5 separate regions of the Homo sapiens genome follow, and regions 1, 3, 4 and 5 are each reported to be linked to region 2. Evidence: microRNA targets listed by miRTarBase, many of them from high-throughput screens and not tested one by one. Region 2 holds a microRNA gene; each other region holds the end of a gene's coding sequence.
What was found. The annotated mature microRNA hsa-miR-493-5p reads UUGUACAUGGUAGGCUUUCAUU and lies in region 2 at 2,247-2,268, opposite strand. An mRNA with a match to its seed (bases 2 to 7 or 8) in the 3' UTR can be bound and repressed. Matches are read on the target gene's strand: a 7mer-m8 pairs with bases 2 to 8, a 7mer-A1 pairs with bases 2 to 7 and ends in A, and an 8mer does both.

Region 1: miRTarBase lists LSM14A as a target of hsa-miR-493-5p. Seed matches in the 3' UTR shown: 7mer-m8 at 934-940.
Region 3: miRTarBase lists SMC3 as a target of hsa-miR-493-5p. Seed matches in the 3' UTR shown: 7mer-A1 at 3,175-3,181.
Region 4: miRTarBase lists MRPS21 as a target of hsa-miR-493-5p. Seed matches in the 3' UTR shown: 7mer-A1 at 3,627-3,633.
Region 5: the mRNA of SOCS5 is a reported target of hsa-miR-493-5p. Seed matches in the 3' UTR shown: 7mer-A1 at 1,513-1,519.

Annotation. Positions count from the first base shown.
Region 1 is chr19:34,227,005-34,231,125 of GRCh38, forward strand. LSM14A (LSM14A mRNA processing body assembly factor) reads left to right here. Exons shown (of 10, transcript NM_015578.4): 10 at 361-2,284. The coding sequence ends at 384. Among named protein-coding and RNA genes, the nearest start is that of GARRE1, 25 kb to the right of the region's middle.
Region 2 is chr14:100,867,222-100,871,342 of GRCh38, reverse strand. MIR493 (microRNA 493) reads right to left here and starts at 2,283; the gene lies at 2,195-2,283. RefSeq lists an enhancer at 3,635-3,804.
Region 3 is chr10:110,603,562-110,607,682 of GRCh38, reverse strand. SMC3 (structural maintenance of chromosomes 3) reads right to left here. Exons shown (of 29, transcript NM_005445.4): 29 at 1,635-3,452. The coding sequence ends at 3,381. Among named protein-coding and RNA genes, the nearest start is that of SMC3, 38 kb to the right of the region's middle.
Region 4 is chr1:150,307,803-150,311,923 of GRCh38, reverse strand. It overlaps MRPS21 (mitochondrial ribosomal protein S21), which reads right to left. Exons shown (of 3, transcript NM_031901.6): 3 at 2,945-3,876. The coding sequence ends at 3,696. Among named protein-coding and RNA genes, the nearest start is that of PRPF3, 12 kb to the left of the region's middle.
Region 5 is chr2:46,759,688-46,763,790 of GRCh38, forward strand. SOCS5 (suppressor of cytokine signaling 5) reads left to right here. Exons shown (of 2, transcript NM_144949.3): 2 at 1-3,442. The coding sequence ends at 454. Among named protein-coding and RNA genes, the nearest start is that of LINC01118, 55 kb to the right of the region's middle.

The DNA.
Region 1 (4,121 bases), not on the chromosome of region 2:
AGTATGTTGACAGTTGTATTTGATGAGTTTGACTATTGAGTTGAGGGTTTAAGTCCTATCACTGCTTTTAAAAAATTATTAGGGAGAACAACCAAAGATGAGGAAGTATGCCTGTATTTTGGGGTGGGGTTCACCACTGCATTAACCTCTACTGACTGGAAGATGCAGTCAACAATGAGGTACTACTGAGTATGGAAGTTATAGAAGGAGTTTCGTGGAAATGAGTGAGACAGGTTTTTCTATGAAAGTAAAAGTGGGGGAGTATATTTAAAGATAATTTAAAATAAACTTGAGCAAAGTAAAAAGAAAATAATACACCAATAATTTGGAACATGAGCTAAATTTTTTTTTCTTTTTTAGAAAGACAACAAAGTTGCTGCATAGTCTACAAACAAGTCTCTGAAAATAGGTGAATTTCTAGCTCTTCATGGTCCTGAACATTGATTTCAGTCTTTGCAAAGAATGAAGAAGTGAATTCGCTGTACATTTGTCACCAGCACTGGGTTTTTGTTTTTTGTTTGTTTTTCCGCTTAATTTCAAAGATAAAATGCAGTTACTTTTGGGGGTGGAAGGCTCATCTTAAAACATGAGCATTAAATATATTTGGAATAGCAGAAGGTTAAGTAATTTCTTATGTATAGTTAAACTAAAGCAGTACTTCAGTGGGACTTAACAAGTATTTTTTCATCACTGAAAGGTTTTTTTTTTTTATCACTAAATTGTATTTGGCAATTGCAAGTTGCCTGCAGATAGGGCCGTGATACTGTGTTTTGAGCCACAGAAGGTTGTGTGTGTGTGTGTGTGTGTGTGTGTGTGTGTGTGTGTATGTGTGTGTCTTTTTCCTCCTTTCTTTTGGGGAATCCTGTAATATGAGGTAGCTTATTTCGTCAATTAATTAGGGTGCTGGATGGTAGAGAATTTTGTCAGTCAACTATGTACACACAGTAAATACTGTTTCTTAGGCAAAGGTAACTTTTTTATATAGTTGTAAAATTCCATTATATTCCATTGCCAAAGAAACATTAAGAACTTTGTATAGCTGTATAAAAAGCAACTAATTTTTTAAAGAATAAACATTTTAAAGTCAGCAAACATACTGTGTCCTTGCAGAAGTTGATGTGCTGAGCAGCAGCCTTATGGGTGGGTCTTTTTTTCTTAGTTTTCCAGGCTTAACATTTTTGATTTTGTTTTTTAATGTTTGGAACATAAATGAAGATTTGATACATTATTTCATTATCTAAAAAGGATTAATTATTCATGCTCATTGTAAGAACTTCATTTTGTAGCAAATGGCATATCACAGGATCTGTCCAGATAATCGATATTTTCAGTATACAAATGTAAATAATCACAGATGAGAATGTACTTAGCTGTATTTTCAAATAAGTAATCTTCCCCCCTTTTGTAGGACTTTAAAACTAGGCATCAATGAACCTGTTTTTCCTATTATGCCTGGAATTTAGTCATGATACCTTGACTCATTCCATCATATTTCAAGAGGATTCAGAGTGCTAGAAATTATTTTGGTAGCCTGTAACACACGGCAACACTGGTCCTTGGGCCTATGATGACCCACAGATGACTCAGTATAGAGTTCATTGCTAATTATAAATTACTAGTGAATCTTTTTGATATTTTAAGCTCTAGTGGGAAAAATCTGGCCACTTTTGTGTTTTTATGAAGGCCATGGAATAAAAGGATCCAAAGATTTAAATATTTTTATCTAATATTTTGATTGTTTTCTTAACTTTCTCCTTAAAACATTCAGTAGTGATAAAGATATAGAAACTGCACTGTAGGAGAATTGGAATATTTAAGGCTGGTTGACATTTTTTATTTTCATTTTATATCTTTTGTATAGCTCTACAAGGCAGTGTTTTGTAATTTGGTTTCATTATGAAGATCCAGTACTTGGCAGCCATAGTTTAGACAATATTGTTCAGTGCTGTTTGCTTGCATGTTAACAACAAAACCTTTTAGAGGACCCACAAATCATGATATTGAACACAGTTCCGAGGCATTCAGAGCATCAGAGCAAGTACCATGGCAATACATGTGTAGACTGTTGGAGATGTCCCGGGCCAATTTCAAGAAAGAAAACTGTAAATACTAGTTCTACTTGCTCTGAAATTATGAGTTTATGCGTTTTCCCAGCCCTCCGAATCACTGACTGGGGCGTTTTGTGCCCCAGCAATAACTGGCAGCATGGCATACCTGCAGTACCCCTTACAATATTAAAGCAAAGTTTTTATTCTAAAACAGAATAAAACTGTTCAATAAAAAATGCTCGTCAAAGTTCTTTCTCTTTAAATAGTAACATTCTGTTTCAGTAGGAACATAATGAAAGGAATCTTTTAAATGGAAGAGCGGAATTATAATGTTTGTATTCCCTGTAATAACTATAAATCAGTTACTTTATTTCTAAGATTGAGTTATTGTTGCAGATGTTTAGGGAAAGCTAAAAGCCCCTTCCTTCCCCTCCTGTGTGTAAATAAAATACTTCTGAGATCAGATCCGTGACATGAGGAGATTGAGCCACCCAGGCACAGGCCAGGCTGGAAACAGCAGCCAGAACACACTCCCTGTGGGCAGACGCATGAAGAAGATGCAGAATCTGTCTATTAAAACAGTTCGCTCCAAAAGCTGGGCTTCATGTGATGGTAGGGCAAGAGGTCGGGAACAGCAGTGCAGCACAGTGGCTCTCGGTGGGGTTACCTGACATCCTAGGAACACAGTCATCTGTTGCTTAATAATAGCGACATGTTCTTATTTTTAAATAGCAATGAGGTCTCACTTCGTTGCCCAGGCTGGTCTCTAACTCCTGGGCTCAAATGATCCTCCCATCTTGGCCTCCCAAAGTGCTAGATTACAGACATGAGCCACCAGGCCCGGCCATGACACATTCTGAGAAATGTGTTAAGCAATGTCATCATTGTGTGAACATCAGAGAGTGTACTACACAAATGAAGATGGTATGGCCTACTCCACACCTAAGCTATATGGTGTAGCCTGTTGCTCCTCGCTACAAACCTGTACAGCATGTTACTGTACTGAATACTGTAGGCAGTCATAACACAGTGGTATTTCTGTATTTAAAACATATCTAAACAGAAAAAGTATAGTAAAAATACGGTATCATAATCTTTGGGACCACCATTGTATACCCAGTCCATCGTTGACCAAAACATCATTAAGTGGTGCGTGAGTACTGAGGAATGTGAGGGGATGTGTTTTGGTTGTCACAATCACTGGGGATCACCACTGGTATTTAAAAGTAAGGGCCCGGATGGTAAATGTCCTGTGCTGTGCCACACAATCAGTTGTCCAACCCAAAGTGCAGTAGTGCTCCTCTACTCTGAGAAACACTGGCTAAAGTCCCTCCACATGGAAAGACAGTAAGTGGGAAATTATTTCCTGCCAACTTGAAAAAAAAAATTTACTACTTAGGAAATTGTCCGCTTGGGAATATTAATAATAAAGGGAACTTACTTCCTGTAGCACATCAGCATTGTGGAAACATTACCACATAGGAGTTAGGGCTTCATCCTGTTCTCTGTCAGTGCTTCACAAATCTCTGATCAGAATCTACCAAGGAGCATTTTTAAGTACAGATTCCCAGGCCCAGAGAGTGATTCTGAAGTTCCCTAGTACAGCAGAACCCAACCTTTTTGGCACCAGGGACTGGTTTCACCAAAGACAGTTTTTCCACAGATGAGCAGGGGGTATGGTTTTGGGGTGATTCAAGTATATTTATTGTGCACTTTATTTCTATTATTACATTGTAATATATAATGAAATAATTACACAATTCACCATCATGTAGAATCAATGGGAGGCCTGAGCTTGTTTTCCTGCAACTAGATGGTCCCATCTGGGGGTGATGGGAGACAGTGACAGATCATCGGGCATGATCAGTGAGTGCGCAACCGAGGTCCCTTGCATGCAGAGCTCACGATAGGGTTTCCAACCCTATGAGAATCTAATGCTGCTGCTGATGTGACAGGAGGTGGAGCTCGGATGGTAATGCTCACTCATCAGCCCGCCTCTCACCCGCTGTGCAGGCTGGTTCCTAACAGACCACGGACCACGACCGTTCTGCTGCCCAGGGATCAGGGACCCCT
Region 2 (4,121 bases):
CAAGTGACACTGAGTAGTCAGGGCTGGAAGTGACACACGGGGGTGTCTCATGTGACACATGACTCGAGGAGGAGCCTAGTGTGACACGTCTGTGTGGGGCGGGGTCAGAGTGATGGGGGAGGAGGCGCTTCTGGCGATGCATGTGGAAGAGGCTCCACGTGACACTTGAGGCTGGGACACTTTTCAGCCTTGTGAACATCTAATGAAGCAAGCCCCTCCCAGGTGAATGATGGGTGTCCTGAGCTGAAGGTGGAGACCCAGTAGGCCTGCCTCATCTCGGTAGACCCAGAAGCATATCTACATGCCACCAATTCTAATTCTGAACGAGATAAAACATGCAGGTAAACAATTCTAAACATTTTTCAGAAGTTTCTCCAGCAAAAGTAACATTTCCTTAGCAAACATGGGACATCTTTAAAGACCACAGAGGCCCCCGAATACTGAGTGTGCTCTAGTCCTTAAAGGGAGGTGACCCTGAGGACCTCAGAGTCCACTGTTTTGTCCCTGGGAGTCCACATCCCTTCACCCCAGGGCATCACAGGTTCTTCCTAGACACCAGAGGGCCCCAGATTCTGGCTTTCCAACACCTAAAAACTTCCAAAATAGATATTTCACAACAAACACTTCACACACAAAAAAGAAAACATTAAAATCAACTGACAAAATAATTCCCATCTTCAATCACCATCATTTTAGAGCAAAACGTACATCGTTAACAATCCAATGACACCCACCAACGCGGGCAGCACAGAGGCTGACCAGCAGACTAGGTGGCAGAGTTCAGGTGCCAAAAGGCTCCTGGGGCGCAGGAATCTTGCCAAGGACTTGGGAGTGAGGACCTTGGGAGCAATCTAGGGACCCCTGAACTCCGGCAGCCATTACTGAGATGACCCATGGGGAATAGAGAGGGGACATGCAATCTCTCCCTCCAGGCTCCACACAGCAGGACCTCAGCTGAGCCCGCACTTCCTCCCCCTGCCCACCACCCCAGCTGATCCCGCCCTTCTGGAAACCAGCTCACCCTCCTCTGCACTCATGCCCACACCCACGCCCCCACCCCCAGCCCTGGCCCAGGCTCTCCTGCCATCCACCGGTGACACATGACTCGAGGAGGAGCCTAGTGTGACACGTCTGTGTGGGGCGGGGTCAGAGTGATGGGGGAGGAGGCGCTTCTGGCGATGCATGTGGAAGAGGCTCCACGTGACACTTGAGGCTGGGACACTTTTCAGCCTTGTGAACATCTAATGAAGCAAGCCCCTCCCAGGTGAATGATGGGTGTCCTGAGCTGAAGGTGGAGACCCAGTAGGCCTGCCTCATCTCGGTAGACCCAGAAGCATATCTACATGCCACCAATTCTAATTCTGAACGAGATAAAACATGCAGGTAAACAATTCTAAACATTTTTCAGAAGTTCCTCCAGCAAAAGTAACATTTCCTTAGCAAACATGGGACATCTTTAAAGACCACAGAGGCCCCCGAATACTGAGTGTGCTCTAGTCCCTAAAGGGAGGTGACCCTGAGGACCTCAGAGTCCACTGTTTTGTCCCTGGGAGTCCACATCCCTTCACCCCAGGGCATCACAGGTTCTTCCTAGACACCAGAGGGCCCCAGATTCTGGCTTTCCAACACCTAAAAACTTCCAAAATAGATATTTCACAACAAACACTTCACACACAAAAAAGAAAACATTAAAATCAACTGACAAAATAATTCCCATCTTCAATCACCATCATTTTAGAGCAAAACGTACATCGTTAACAATCCAATGACACCCACCAACGCGGGCAGCACAGAGGCTGACCAGCAGACTAGGTGGCAGAGTTCAGGTGCCAAAAGGCTCCTGGGGCGCAGGAATCTTGCCAAGGACTTGGGAGTGAGGACCTTGGGAGCAATCTAGGGACCCCTGAACTCCGGCAGCCATTACTGAGATGACCCATGGGGAATAGAGAGGGGACATGCAATCTCTCCCTCCAGGCTCCACACAGCAGGACCTCAGCTGAGCCCGCACTTCCTCCCCCTGCCCACCACCCCAGCTGATCCCGCCCTTCTGGAAACCAGCTCACCCTCCTCTGCACTCATGCCCACACCCACGCCCCCACCCCCAGCCCTGGCCCAGGCTCTCCTGCCATCCACCGGCTGGCGTGCGTCTCCCCGAGGCGTGCACTCACAAGGGCAACGTCCATCTACACGATGCCTGGCACAGGGCCTGGCACACAGTAGACCTTCACCGAATGTGCAAACGAATGAATGAAAGCCTACCATGTACAAAGCCCTGGAGGCCAGAATGAGCCCCGAAGCGAGGATGATGGAGGTGAGGCGGGTGATGGAGGCTGGAATGGCCAGAGATGAGATGCTGTGCCCAGGATGACAGAGGCCAGATGGAGGTGATGGGAGCCGTGATGATGGAGTCCATGGTAACAGACATGCATGAGATGGACCCCCCCCAAAGACGAGAGGGAGAGGAGGAAGCCAGGGCCCAAGAGCTGGGCCTGGAAACCTCTGAGGGTCAAGGTGGGACATGAAGCAGGAGCCTTTCCTGTCCAGACCAGCGTTCAGCTCGACGCCCCACCACCCACCCCACGCACTTGCATTCACAGAAAATCGACCCTGTGTGATCCTCAGAGAATAATCAGTGAGCCCGAGAGCCCTGCCAGTGAGGAGTGGGACGTGCCCTGGAACAGGGGGCAGCAGACATTTCTGCTTACAGACCCCATGAAGGGATTTTGGAAAGCCACGGATCTCCCCCTCCCATAGCCCATTTTTAAATGGGCCGTAAAAGTTAATAGGAAGTTTACAAAGTTGCAATGAGGTGGCCTCTGGCATATACTATAGCATATAGATGTGACAAATGCTAGGTATGGAGCACTTGTCAAAACCTCAGAGGTCTGGAATCAGCTCATTTTGATTTGTCCACTCTGAACCTCACTGGCAAACCAATCGGGCAAAACAGACTTTTTCAGAAAAAGCCTGATGTCATTTTGGGAACCCCTCAATTCAAATCAGTGTGTAAATATGCAGTGCAAAGGCAAACATTTCCCCCCTGGATTCGGAACCTCAGGTAGATGCATCACCTGGATGCCAAGGAGGGTGGGGCACCGTGGGTATGACGAGAACTCACCTGGAGGCTGGGTGGAGGGTGCAGCATCTGGCCAGAGGGCATGGCGGGCACAGGCGTCGTCCGGGCCCAAGGCCCTGTCCAGAGCGTGATGCAGTAGCCGAGGCCTGGGAGGCCCCATCTGGTCCTGAGGTTCCCCAGCCAGTGCCACAGAGCAGCAGAAGCCCCATGCAGTGGCTGGGGGAGCTGAGGGGCTAGGCACAGGACCCAGCCTGCCCCTTGCTCAACCCATTGTCTTGGGAGCTGCCTTGGAAGCTGGAGACTAGGGGGTGGGGGTGGGGGGGATGGCCAGAACCCCAGACAAGGGGGCAGGGGTTAAGGGGTGGGCAACGGGGGTGGGTTCCACTCCAGGACACAGGAGGGAGAGCCGGTGAGAGGACGGTGTCTGCAGCTCATGGGAGCACAGTACCCCCAACCTTGGCCTCAGCCCAGGTCTCACTCCAGCTGCTTTGCCAAGAAGAGGCAGGGGGGGAGGTGGAGAAGGATGGAGAAGAGGAGGGGTTCAAGGGCCAAGACTCTCACTCTTCTGTCCACTGAGGCAGACCTGGACACAAAGACGGACTGATGGGCAAAGCCACAGGGGATATAGGCATGGGTGACTCCGGGAAGCAGGTCTGGGGGCAGGATGTGGATGTGGCATCGGCACCCAGGGTGCTGTAGGCTCAGGGACAGATCCACTGTCGCCCACTCCCAGTCGCTCTCCACCATCTGTCTCCCACGCATGCACATACACACAAGCATAGAGCTGCATACGCATGCACTGGCAGGCACACGCACCCACACACGTGCACACCGGGCATGCTCACACACTCATAGGCTCACGAAGGCACACACAGGCTCATGGAGGCACACACACCCACACACATGCACACAGCTACCCGCTCCCAGGCCAGGGGCCCCTGTGCTCTGAGCCCTCCCATAACAGGAGCCCGGCACATACATCTGAGCCTAACCCAGAGCTAATGGGCATAGGAGCCCATTCGCCCCACACTAGAGGGTGCACACC
Region 3 (4,121 bases), not on the chromosome of region 2:
TTGGTTTTTTTTTTGTTTTTTTTTTTTTTTGACGGAGTCTCGCTGTGTCTCCCAGGCTGGAGTGCAGTGGTGCGATCTCAGCTCACTGCAACCTCCACCGCCCAGATTCAAATGATTCTCCTGCCTCAGCCTCCCAAGCAGCTGGGACTATAGGCCCGCATCACCTCACCCGGCTAATTTTTAGTAGAAACAGGGTTTCACCATGTTGGCCAGGCTGGTCTTGAACTCTTGACCTTAAGTGATCCGCCTGCCTCAGCTTCCCAAAGTGCTGTGATTACAGGCACCGAGCCACCGCGCCTGGCCTAGATAGTTGTTAAAAGAGAAACACCTTTTAAGAATTAACTAAATATTTCCAAAGACCCGTTTGCTATTGCTTTTTTTTTTTTTTTTGAGATGGAGTCTCGCTCTGTCGCCCAGGCTGGAGGGCAGTGGCACGATCTAGGCTCACTGCAAGCTCTGCCTCCCGGGCTACCGCCATTCTCCTGCCTCAGCCTCCACAGTAGCTGGGACTACAGACGCCCACCACCACGCCCGGAGAATCTTTTGTATTTTTAGTGGAGACGGGATTTCACCAGGTTAGCCAGGATGGTCTCGATCTCCTGACCTTGTGATCCACCCACCTTGGCCTCCCAAAGTGCTGGGATTACAGGCGTGAACCACCGTGCCCGACCGGCTATTGCTTACTCTTAAAAAAGAAATCCTCCCTTTCTATTTCTCCCTTTTCTACTGATTATATTATTCACAGTAAAATTATTTCTATAAATTACATCATTTTCTAAAATTACTATTTCACTAATTTTGAGTAGACAAATCCTTAACCTACATACTAACCATTTCATATTTTACATTTTTTTCAAAAAGAGCATAAAGAGTATACAAAAATCCTTACAAATATTCACACTCTGACTTCTAGGAATCTACGCTGGGAAAATAATCCTAAATGTTGGGAGTTTTATGTATAAAAATGTTGATCTGTTTTTTAATTCATTTTTGGTACTTTAGCCAAAAGAAAACGATCTAAGCCTCCAGTGGGATATTTAAGTAAATTATGCTACTTCTACTTGACAGAATAGTATATGACTATTAAAATCTTGTTTCCAAAGCATTAAAACAGGAATATTTTATATTATTACTAAATTAAAAATCTAAGATATAAAATTATACACCTAGAATAAACATAAACCACAAAACTTTTTATGAAGATTTGAAGGAAATGCCCCAAAATATTAATATTGGCAGGCCAAAGCAGAAGATCACCTGAGCCCAGGAGTTCAAGGTTGCAGTGAGCTGTGATCCTGCCACCGCACTCCAGCGTGGGTGATGGGATGAGACCCCCCCCACCATCTCTTAAAATATATGTTCTTCAATTCCACTATGGTGAATGTAATGTATTTGTAACAGTATTAACAAAATCTCAAAGTGGAAGAATCAGTACTACTCTGAGGAAAGGACTATCCAGCCAAAGAGAAGCATAGATTTTCTTATGAATCACTGGCTAACTCCTTGGGTAAATGTCTGTCCTTCCTCTAAGTTTCTGGGTTAAGCATGCTCAGGATTGTCACATTTTTCTATTCAGTCTCATTAGAATTAATTCATGACTAAGATATCGCAAAGAATATAGGCTTTTACAAAAATTTTGTTTCATTATTTAGATGCTTTATTGTTATAAATTTACTGGCATTTCATTATACTAATATCCTTGGGGAAATGCTTAAGAACAATATTAAGAAGTTCTAGAATGATGTTATGTTTGTAACATCCCTTGAATTGAATCCTGGAACTTACCTTACACCAAATTCTGTATTATAAGGGGTTGGTCATATCAGAGCAACTCTACAAATCGTAAACTATACACCAAGCATTCATGATGAATATTCTTAGGTAGTTGTTTGAGAAAAATTCTTGGGTAAATGTGTAAGAAAAATGGTAGAAATATTAGAAAGATATTATAGTTACGTAACCCTTTGAATGTAGTCATAGATAGAACATATACCAAATTCTCTATTATAGATCAGTTATGTTATAGCAAAGCTACAAAGTATAAATAATACACCGAACATTTAAAGATTCAGCCAGTCAAAATGAAAACCCAAAGTAAACTCACATTTTTAAATTCAATTTAAAGTCCCATTACTATTTCTTTATTTTAAAAGTATCTCTTTAGGTATTTCTGGTTTCCAATGATGGAAGAGTAGCTCCTAACAAATTCTCCTGCAGATAACCAGTATAAACTCAGGCCAGGGGAAATCAAGAAAAAGAAATTAAAGGTAAATATTTGAAAAGGAAGAAATAAAACTGCCTCTTTCTTGCAAATGACATGACTGTCTATGTAGAAAATCTCAAAGAATCTACAAAAAGCTACGAGGACTATTGAGGTAGTTTTCCAGGGTCACAGGAGACCCCCAGTGCTTAAAGACCTACTTTCAAAGAAAAGAGTAGTATGGAAAGGGAAAAAAATGTAACTTCACAACAAAGAAACCTGGCAAGTACAATGTTGGGTAGGTGATCAAGGTAAACATCAGTGATAAAACATGTTAATAATATGTACTATTATATGAGGTAATGAGAATACTTCGCTTCTGTGGTATTAGCTCCAATCTAACCATGAGAAAAATATTAGACAAACCTAATTTGAGGGACATTCTACAAAATATGTGAATATTATTCAAAATTGTCAAGATATGATAAACAATGACAGAGAAATTGTCACAGACTAGAGGAGATGTAAGTAAATGTAATGTATCCTCTGTGGGATCCTAGAAAAGAAAAAGGGCCTTAGTGGAAAAACTAGTCAAATCTGAATAAAATCTTGAGCTTAGTTGATAGTAATGTATCAATGATAAATATACCATGGTAGGGGCTGATTTTGTGCTTCCCTTCCCAAACTCACATGTTGAAGTCCTAACCCTCAATACCTCAAATTTAACTGTATTTGGAGACAGGTCTTTTAAAGAGGTGATTAAGTTAAAATGAGGCCTTACATCCAATCTGATTAGTGTTCTCACTGGAAGAGACTATGACAAATGAAAAGCCACATAAAACACTATATTAGTCATAAAACCGATTATTTAATTGAAGCTATAAAAAAGGTAGTATAAGTGATAAAATAATTAGGAAAGAATATTTAGCATGTTTCAAAACATTTAAAATAGGAGCAGAACATTTTACAAAAAGTTGTACAGGAAATTAAATTCTTAAACTATCAGTACAAACATGACATTACAGAGTATCTTATAAAATACAAAGACAAATATAAAAGGACTATGATGCTTTAAGTCTGAAAACTATTGGCCAAATATTTAGGTTTAAATTTACAGTTCCTGGGTATGAGAATCATATTACTATATACATCTCCCAAACCAGTAGGTAGTATTTTCCAATTAACCATGTGTGGTATCATCTTCTACAAAGTCTTTGGCCATCTCTGCTGTGATCACATCAATATGACTAACCTGAAGAATAAATGTTAAAAACAAAAATCTGTTAATTACATCAGTGTTTACATTGTATAGGGTAAATATATACAGCCTATCAACTACATTTAACTACATTTTTTAATTTTTAGTTTTTTTTTTTTTTTTTTTTTTTGAGATGGAGTCTTGCTCTGTTGCCCAGGCTGGAGTGCAGTGGCACCATCTTGGCTCACTGCTACCTCCGCCTCCCAGGTTCAAGCAATTATTCTGCCTCAGACTCCCAAGTAGCTGGGACGACAGGTGCACGCCAGCATGCCCAGCTAATTTTTGTATTTTTAGTAGAGACGGGGGTTTCACCATACTGGCCACGTTGGTCTCAAACTCCTGACCTGGTTATCTACCTGCCTTGGCCTCCCAAAGTGCTGGGATTACAGGCATGAGCCATTGCGCCCGGCCTATCACCTATATTTTACATATGAAGGAAAATAATTCTGAAGCACTGACTTATAAAACCTTTATTTACAGTGGTGTTTGTTCAATGCATAGATTTAAAAAATATGTATTTTAATGCTCTGAAGAAATAAATATCATGCCTAAACATCTAAACTACCTTTTTGTTCACTTTCTATTACTTTGCTATTTCATCAAGAATTTTAAGGTTGGGAAGACACCCAGGAAGAGCTATGCAGTCTATACAAATGAACATAT
Region 4 (4,121 bases), not on the chromosome of region 2:
CTGGCTAGCTGCTAAAACCCATCATTGTTCATTGCTCTAGGGGAGCATGGGCAATAGGACTGAAGATTAAAACAAGCGGGGGATAATTTTTAGAGACAAAGAAAATTTCAAATCTCAGCCACCTCTTAGTATTTTGGAGGGAGCTCAGAAGCAACTTTAGCCCCAGGAGAATAATGCCAAGTAACAGGCCTGATTCTGTTATCACAAACATGCCTTACCACTGTGGTAGATGACACTATATTATGGCTCAATATCATTAAAATGTACTAAAGACCAAATTCAGATTTATTTTATTTTATTTATTTATTTTTGAGACGGAGTCTCGCTCTGTCACCCAGGCTGGAGTGCAGTGGCGCCATCTCGGCTCACTGCAAGGTCTGCCTCCGGGGTTCACGCCATTCTCCTGCCTCAGCCTCCCGGGCGCGGTGGCTCACGCCTGTAATCCCAGCACTTTGGGAGGCCGAGGCGGGTGGATCACGAGGTCAGGAGATCAAGACCATACTGGCTAACACGGTGAAACCCCGTCTCTACTAAAATTAAAAAAAAAAATTAGCCACGCGCGGTGGCGGGCGCCTGTAGTCCTGGCTACTCGGGAGGTTGAGGCAGGAGTATGGCGTGAACCCGGAAGGCGGAGCTTGCAGTGAGCCGAGATCACGCCGCTGCACTCCAGCCTGGGCAATAGAGCGAGACTCCGTCTACAAAAAACAAAAAAAAAGGTAGTGACGGAGTTTCATCGTGTTAGCCAGGATGGTCTTGCTCTCCTGACCTCGTGATCCATCCTCCTCGGCCTTCCAAAGTGCTGGGACTACAGGCGTGAGCCACCGCGCCCGGCCTCAGATTCAGATTTAAAGGTGACTCAGAAGTGTCATATCTTGTTTGTTAAGACTAGGTTGTATAAAGGGAACAAAGTTGAAGGCAGCCTGTATACAGATTTTCTCCAAAATGAGGGAAAGGAGCAGATCTATTTCTTTTTCCTTTTTTTTTTTTGGGGACGCTCCGTTGCCCAAGCTGGAGTGCAGTGGCGCGATTTCGGCTCATTGCAAGCTCTGCCTCCCGGGTTCACGCCATTCTCCTGCCTCAGACTCCCAAATAGCTGGGACTACAGGCGCCCGCCACCATGCCCCGCTAACTTTTTTGTATTTTCAGTAGAGACGGGGTTTCACCATGTTAGCCAGGATGGTCTCGATCGCCTGACCTTGTGATCCGCCCACCTCGGCTTCCCAAAGTGCTGGGATTACAGGCGTGAGCCACTGTGCCTGGCCAGCACCAACTTTTAAAAGAGACCGAGTCTTGCTCTGTCGCCAGGCGCGATCTTGGCTCACTGCAACCTCCACCTCCTGCGTTCAAGTGATTCTCCTGCCTCAGCCTCCCAGGTAGCTGAGATTACAGGCGCCTACCACCACGCCCAGCTAATTTTTTTGTATTTTTAGTAGAGACAGGGTTTCACCATGTTGGCTAGGCTGGTCTCAAACTCCTGACCTCGTGATCCGCCCGCCTCAGCCTCCCAAAGTGCTGAAATTACAGGCGTGAGCCATGGCACCCGGCCTGGCACCGACTCTTAATAATAGCAACACGGCTGTCAGCCAACCAATGGTGGAGGAAACAGCAGGAGAAAAAGCAGAGCAGCTGGTCTTCCCACAGTGGTCAGTTTCCGCAGCTGTCAAGAGTAAAATAATCAGGAGTGACTGCTGGGTAGAGGCAGTGATGGTGGGAACCTCCACTTGAAGTCTCTTTGAGTACTGCAAAGGGCAGTGGTTGTAACTCTAGCAGGCATCAGAATCACCTGCAAGGCTTGTGAAAATAGATTGCTGGGCTCCAACCTCAATTTCCAATATCGAAGATCTAAAGTAGGGTCCCATAATTTGCATTTCAAGCAATCCCTCTGGTGAAATTGATGCTGCTGATCTGACACTTTGAGAAGCACTGCTTTGTGGGTATTTCTGGCTCTGTGCCATTCTCTCTCAACGCTCCATTCCCTCTTTCCTACTATCTACTGAGTCCCACCCATCTATTGCTTTATTTCTTCTCCACCATCCCTCTCTTAGTCTCTGTTAGGAAAACTAAAAGGACAGAAAACAGGAATGAACATTAGGGTAGATTTAAGAATTTCTTTGGGCAAGGATTCCAGCACTCTAGTCTGGTTGATAGGTGTTTTCAGAAGCAGAATTTATTCCAAATACATACATGCATCTTCTCCTCTCTACCTAACATGGAACAGTTTAATAAAAAGTAATAGATGCTTTCTCAGTAAGATTTTGCTTGGGGATTCAAAAAAATTGGGTAGGAAATGGTAGACATATTTCACTACATTAAAAAAATTTTCCGGCCGGGCGCAGTGGCTCACGCCTGTAATCCCAACACTTTGGGAGGCCAAGGCAGGGGGATCACGAGACCAGGAGATCGAGACTATCCTGGCTAACACAGATAAACCCCATCTCTACTAAAAACACAAAAATTAGCCGGGCGTGGCGGCGTGTGCCTGTAGTCCCAGCTGCTGGGGAGGCTGAGGCAGGAGAATGGCGTGAACCCAGGCGGCGGAGCTTGCAGTGAGCTGAGATTGTCCCACTGCCCTCCAGCCTGGGCAACAGAGCGAGACTCCATCTACAAAAAAAAAAAAAAAATTTACCAGCCAGGTATGGTGGCTCATGCCCATAATCCCAGCACTTTGGGAGGCCGAGGTGGGCGGATCACCTGAGGTCAGGAGTTCGAGACCAGCCTGGACAACATGGTGAAACCCCGTCTCTACTAAAAATACAAAAATTAGCTGGGCGTGGTGGCAGGTGCCTGTAGTCCCAGCTTCTGGGGAGGCTGAGGCAGGAGAATCACTTGAACCCAGGAGGCGGAGGTTGCAGTGAGCCTAGACTGCACCATTGCACTCCAGTCTGGGGGACAAGAGCGAGACTTCCTCTTAAAAAAAAGAAAAAAAAATTCCTTACTTCTCCTGGACTTTCAAAAAAGTTTTTATTGTAGTAAAACACAAAATTTACCATCGTGACCATTTAAGGGTATAGTTCAGTGGCATTAAGTACATTCAACTTTTTGAGCAACCGCCATCACCATTCATCATCCATCTCCGTTTTTTTGTTTTGAGATGGAGTCTCACTCTGTCGCCCAGGTTGGAGTGCAGTGGCATGATCTTGGCTCACTGCAACCTCTTCCTCCCCAGTTCAAGCAATTCTCCTGCCTCAGCCACCCAAGTATCTGGGATTACAGGCGTGCACCACCACGCCCGGCCAATTTTTTTTTGTATTTTTAGTAGAGATGGGGTTTCACCACATTGGCCAAGCTGGTCTCAAACTCCTGGCCTCAAGTGAGCCGCCCGCCTCAGCCTCCCAAAGTGTTGGGATAACAGGCGTGAGCCACCATGCCAGGCCATCGTCTCCTGAACTTTTTCATCTGCCCAAACTGAAACTCTGTACCCATTAAACAATAACTCCTCACTGCCCCCTCCTCCAGTCCCTGGCAAATACCATTCTACTCCTAGAGTACTTTCAGACTCAGTTTCTTCTTTCACTTAATAAAAGACAGGGTCCACTGCTGACTAATGGGATTGTTTCTATATTTGGAGGCCTTCTTGCAGACATGTGATTTGAGTTTATTGCAGAGAATGGTAATAGGAAATGGGATTGTACAAAGAAAAGAGATGGAGAGAAAACTGGATGAGGGTTTCGCACTGGGTGTCCCACCCACAGGCCTCAGCAGCCCTGCCACGGATCTGCCCGATTCTTTCGCATCAAGAAGTTGATCTTGCGAGCCATTTCCATGTTGTAGATCCGCCGGCACCTTTCATAGCTTTCCCTCTGTCGCCGGCAGCATGGCTTCTCATAATACCGCCGATGCTTAATGTCCTCAATGAGCCCATCCATAGTGAGGATTCTGTATAAAGGCAAGCAATGAGGTTAGACATTTGGGATCATCATTATTCTTTTCCAGTTTCATAAATAGAAGTCGATTGACCAAACAATTGGTATTTATAAAAAATACAGTGGGAAATGGTGGCAATAGAGCATTAACTGCCTACTTACAAAGGCCTCAATAAGAATCTGTGGGCCGGGTGCAGTGGCTCATGCCTGTAATCCCACCACCCTGGGAGCCCAAGGTGAGCAGATTGAGCCCAGGAG
Region 5 (4,103 bases), not on the chromosome of region 2:
GGACCGTTATGAAGCAGAAGCCCTTCTCGAAGGGAAACCTGAAGGCACGTTTTTGCTCAGGGACTCTGCGCAAGAGGACTACCTCTTCTCTGTGAGCTTCCGCCGCTACAACAGATCCCTGCATGCCCGAATTGAGCAGTGGAATCACAACTTTAGTTTCGACGCCCATGACCCGTGTGTATTTCACTCCTCCACTGTAACGGGACTTTTAGAACATTATAAAGATCCCAGTTCGTGCATGTTTTTTGAACCATTGCTTACTATATCACTAAATAGGACTTTCCCTTTTAGCCTGCAGTATATCTGTCGCGCGGTAATCTGCAGGTGCACTACGTATGATGGAATTGATGGGCTCCCTCTACCCTCAATGTTACAGGATTTTTTAAAAGAGTATCATTATAAACAAAAAGTTAGAGTTCGCTGGTTGGAACGAGAACCAGTCAAGGCAAAGTAAACTCTCCGGTCCCCAAAGGTTGTTAACTAGGTCCGCTTTCATGTGCATCAGACAGTACACCTATAGCAAGCACACGTAGCAGTGTTAGGCTTTTTCATACAGTATGTAAGCTTAGTGTTAGTATCTGTCAGATGCTACCTGCTGTTACTTATTCAGATAAACATGGTGCCTATTGGAACAATAGCGGATAGAGCTACAGGTGTTCAGTAAGACTACAAAAACATTTTGCCTATTTCGCTAACAGTTTGGTTTTTAATGGCTGTGGTATTTGAGTGAGGCAACTCTGGGGCATTTGTTATGAAGAATTCTATTTCTTACTGAAGAACAAATTATTAATATTGGATGAGTATTTCAACAGTGTGACTAATGTTTGAAATTATTTTTTCTAAGAGTTTTTCTATAACCTTCCAAAAGTCGTGATGTTTGTAGTTACTATAAATCAAGCTTTGGAAGTCCAAAAAGAATAAAAGACTGCCTTCCTTTTAGAAAAAAATGCAATTTTCTGGCCACAAGGGCATAGTGCAGTTCACTTACGTGTTGATGTAGTTTATAATCAGACGCCTTTTCTCTTCTGCAAAAGGTACTGTTAAGTAAACCAGATTTTCTAAATAGGCATTCTTAAAATTTCAGACTTACAAAGCTAGTAGTAGAATTTTATTGAAAGGCCTAGGTATTAATTTTTTAAATGAGTGCTTTAACTTAAAACAGGCGTTTGGAATAGCTGCTGCAATGTAGTCTTGTGTGTGATTTTTTTTTAAGTTGATGTGCAGTCTAATTGTTGTTTCATAAAAGTTGGATCTGTTCCTATGCCCAGGATGATTTTGTGAACCGTGAAGTACGTGAGACTAGAAGACGCCCAAACAAGTCAGATAATAGTAACTACAATGGTTGCTGATGTTGAGATTATTGTTGAACTATAATTAATAATTTGGATGGCAGAATTTATCTCTTTTTTGTAAACTCTCATAACTGAATTGCTTAAGTATAATTTATAGAATTTCAGTGCAGTTCATTCTTAATGGAAAATCTGAAACCTAAATTGCAGATTTAAAAGGTACTGTACAACCATTATATCTGTAAATAACTTAGCACCTTTTTGTCACTTAGAATAATATGTACTACTACTTGAGTGAGCGCTTTTGGAAGTTATATCAAGTTCTAGTGTTTGCTTCTTAGTAACTGAACTGAATTTACAGTTCTGTCCTAGACATTTTGCACTAAAGTAGCCGAATCCACTCTCATGTCTTTTCGTTAATGTGCTCTGTACCACTGGTGAGTGCTCCATAGTTTCCTTACCTGCTGCTACAGAATGTTATTTTACATCCCTATGGCTATTGCCAAGGCTACAAAAAAGGAAAGCTATATTTGTATGCAACACTAACCTTTTGACTGCTAATGTATGTTTCTGCTTGCTGTGCCTTGTTATGGCTGCTTTTTTTGTGCTAATAAAGTATGTTTGGTGTTCTCCTTGTATATCTGCTGTTTTATACATTTGCAACAATTTCTCTTGTAAATGGAATGGTTTGGGGTTTTTAAATAAGCATTAACTAACAACCTTTCTATAGTTAATGCAGAGTTAATGAACAGTCTAATATTGACTTATCAGAATAAGCTAACTCTAAATTTAATGCTCTACATCTTATCAGTCATAATTATATATACTGTGGAACAGTATCTGTAGTTACTGCAAATTACTGTACAGTTTAGGTTATAACAGAAAACTGACAGAGAAGTAATAAACCTATTGATTTCTCTGCTTATAAATGAAAGATTGAAACTATCCAATGACATATTATAGTAAATGAGTATCTGTAACCTCCCACTGCATCAGAAGCAGGTTAAATGAAGTCTTGTGAATTTGTAATAGATCAGTACCATTTATTGGTTTGGGGACCATCTTAATTAAAAATAAATGCCCAAAATGTAGAACTTTAACCAAAGACTTGTCCCTTTTAAAGCAAAATGGGGATTGAAGGGACTTATAATTTCTGTTGTTTCTAATTAAAGTCCCTGAAGATCATATACCAAAGTGTTTGAGAACTTCATCCAAACCTACTTTAAAGCATTATGTGCAATTAAGTTGTTATGACATAATTATATTGCCTAATTGTTGGGTCTTTTTTCTTGAGCTTATAATGTACCTGGAAAATAAACCTCTTGAGAAAAAGAAAAGTTCATACTGATTATTGGAAAAGGACTATATATGTGAGCAAGATTGTGTTTTAGAGAGGAAACTTGAAACTCCAAGAAAGCACTTGATGTTTTTATATGCTTGTAGCAAATTGATGTTCTAACTGTAGTTTTATAGAAAGTATTAATGCTTTTATGTATTTCAAAACTTTCATATGTTAAATGGAAATTGTTTTAAATGTGTTTGAGTTTATGTAAGCATGTATACACTGTGCTAAAAGTCACATGTTTCAGTTTGTGTATAATATTAATATGCAATTTTTGGTTTAAATTTTTGTCTTAAAATATTAGTGGCTTACATTTTAAAAAAGAAAAATCACCAGCATGAACTTGCACCTAAGTCTATATTCACTGTGTCCTTTTCTGAATCCCATTGTAGCCTGTCAACTAAATTTGAGTGTTAACGGTCTTTTTAAAGTGCATTTAAATACAAACCAGGAATTTCTTTAGAAGTTGAGATACATCTTTATAGTTGAAATAATTAACCCAAGAAAAGGTTGCTTTGATTTGTACCCATTCTCATTCATTTTCTTCATTCCCTTACACACACACACACACCTCTCCCTTCCGCATACATATAAGTGTGTATTATATATTTATGTATGCACATATATACATTTATGTTGTTAATATTACTTTAGATGGCATTTCCACCTGATACAAAAACATTTAGAGATCTTATTCTATAGATATTACCTAAAGAGTATTCTTGTACTATTCGAATTTTATTATCTGCACTAAAAGTTTAGCCTTGCTACTTTAGCCTTGTTTATAATACAGTCACCTTACAAAGAGAAAGAGTTCATCTGTATTTTGTTTTCTGGCTAAACACAGTACAAAATATTTGAAGAAAAACAGCTTGGATTAAATAGTTACTAAGAGTTATAATTAAATTTATGTTTCTTAGACAAAACTTGAGCCCAAATAATCATTCTCCACACACCAGGCTGTTTTTAGCTCTTATGTTTACGTAAGATTTATAATGGCTAGAACCGTAAGAACTGATACTTGAATTTTAAGCTTCATTTGACAAAATCGAAAGCTTAAGAATTTTTTTATTTCACATTTTGATCTGGTTGCTATTTATGTTTATTTCAAAGCTTGCTTTTCTCTCTGGCACTGAACACTAATTTGGTGAGTTTTATTGAGACTGGTCTTAGATCTCTTATTTTTATAGCAAATACTGCTTTTTGGTAGAGCCAAAGAGCCTGTGAGTGAATCAGGACCCTCCTTTTTTTTTGTTTTTTTTTTTGTTTTGTTTTGTTTTTGCGACAAGAGTCTCACTCTTGTCACCCAGGCTGGAGTGCAGTGGCCCGATCTTGGCTTACTGCAACCTCTGCCTCCCAGGTTCAAGTGATTCTCCTGCCTCAGCCTCCTGAGTAGCTGGGATTACAGGCGCCCACCACCACGCCCGGCTAATTTTTGTATTTTTAGTAGTGACGGGGTTTCACCATGTCAG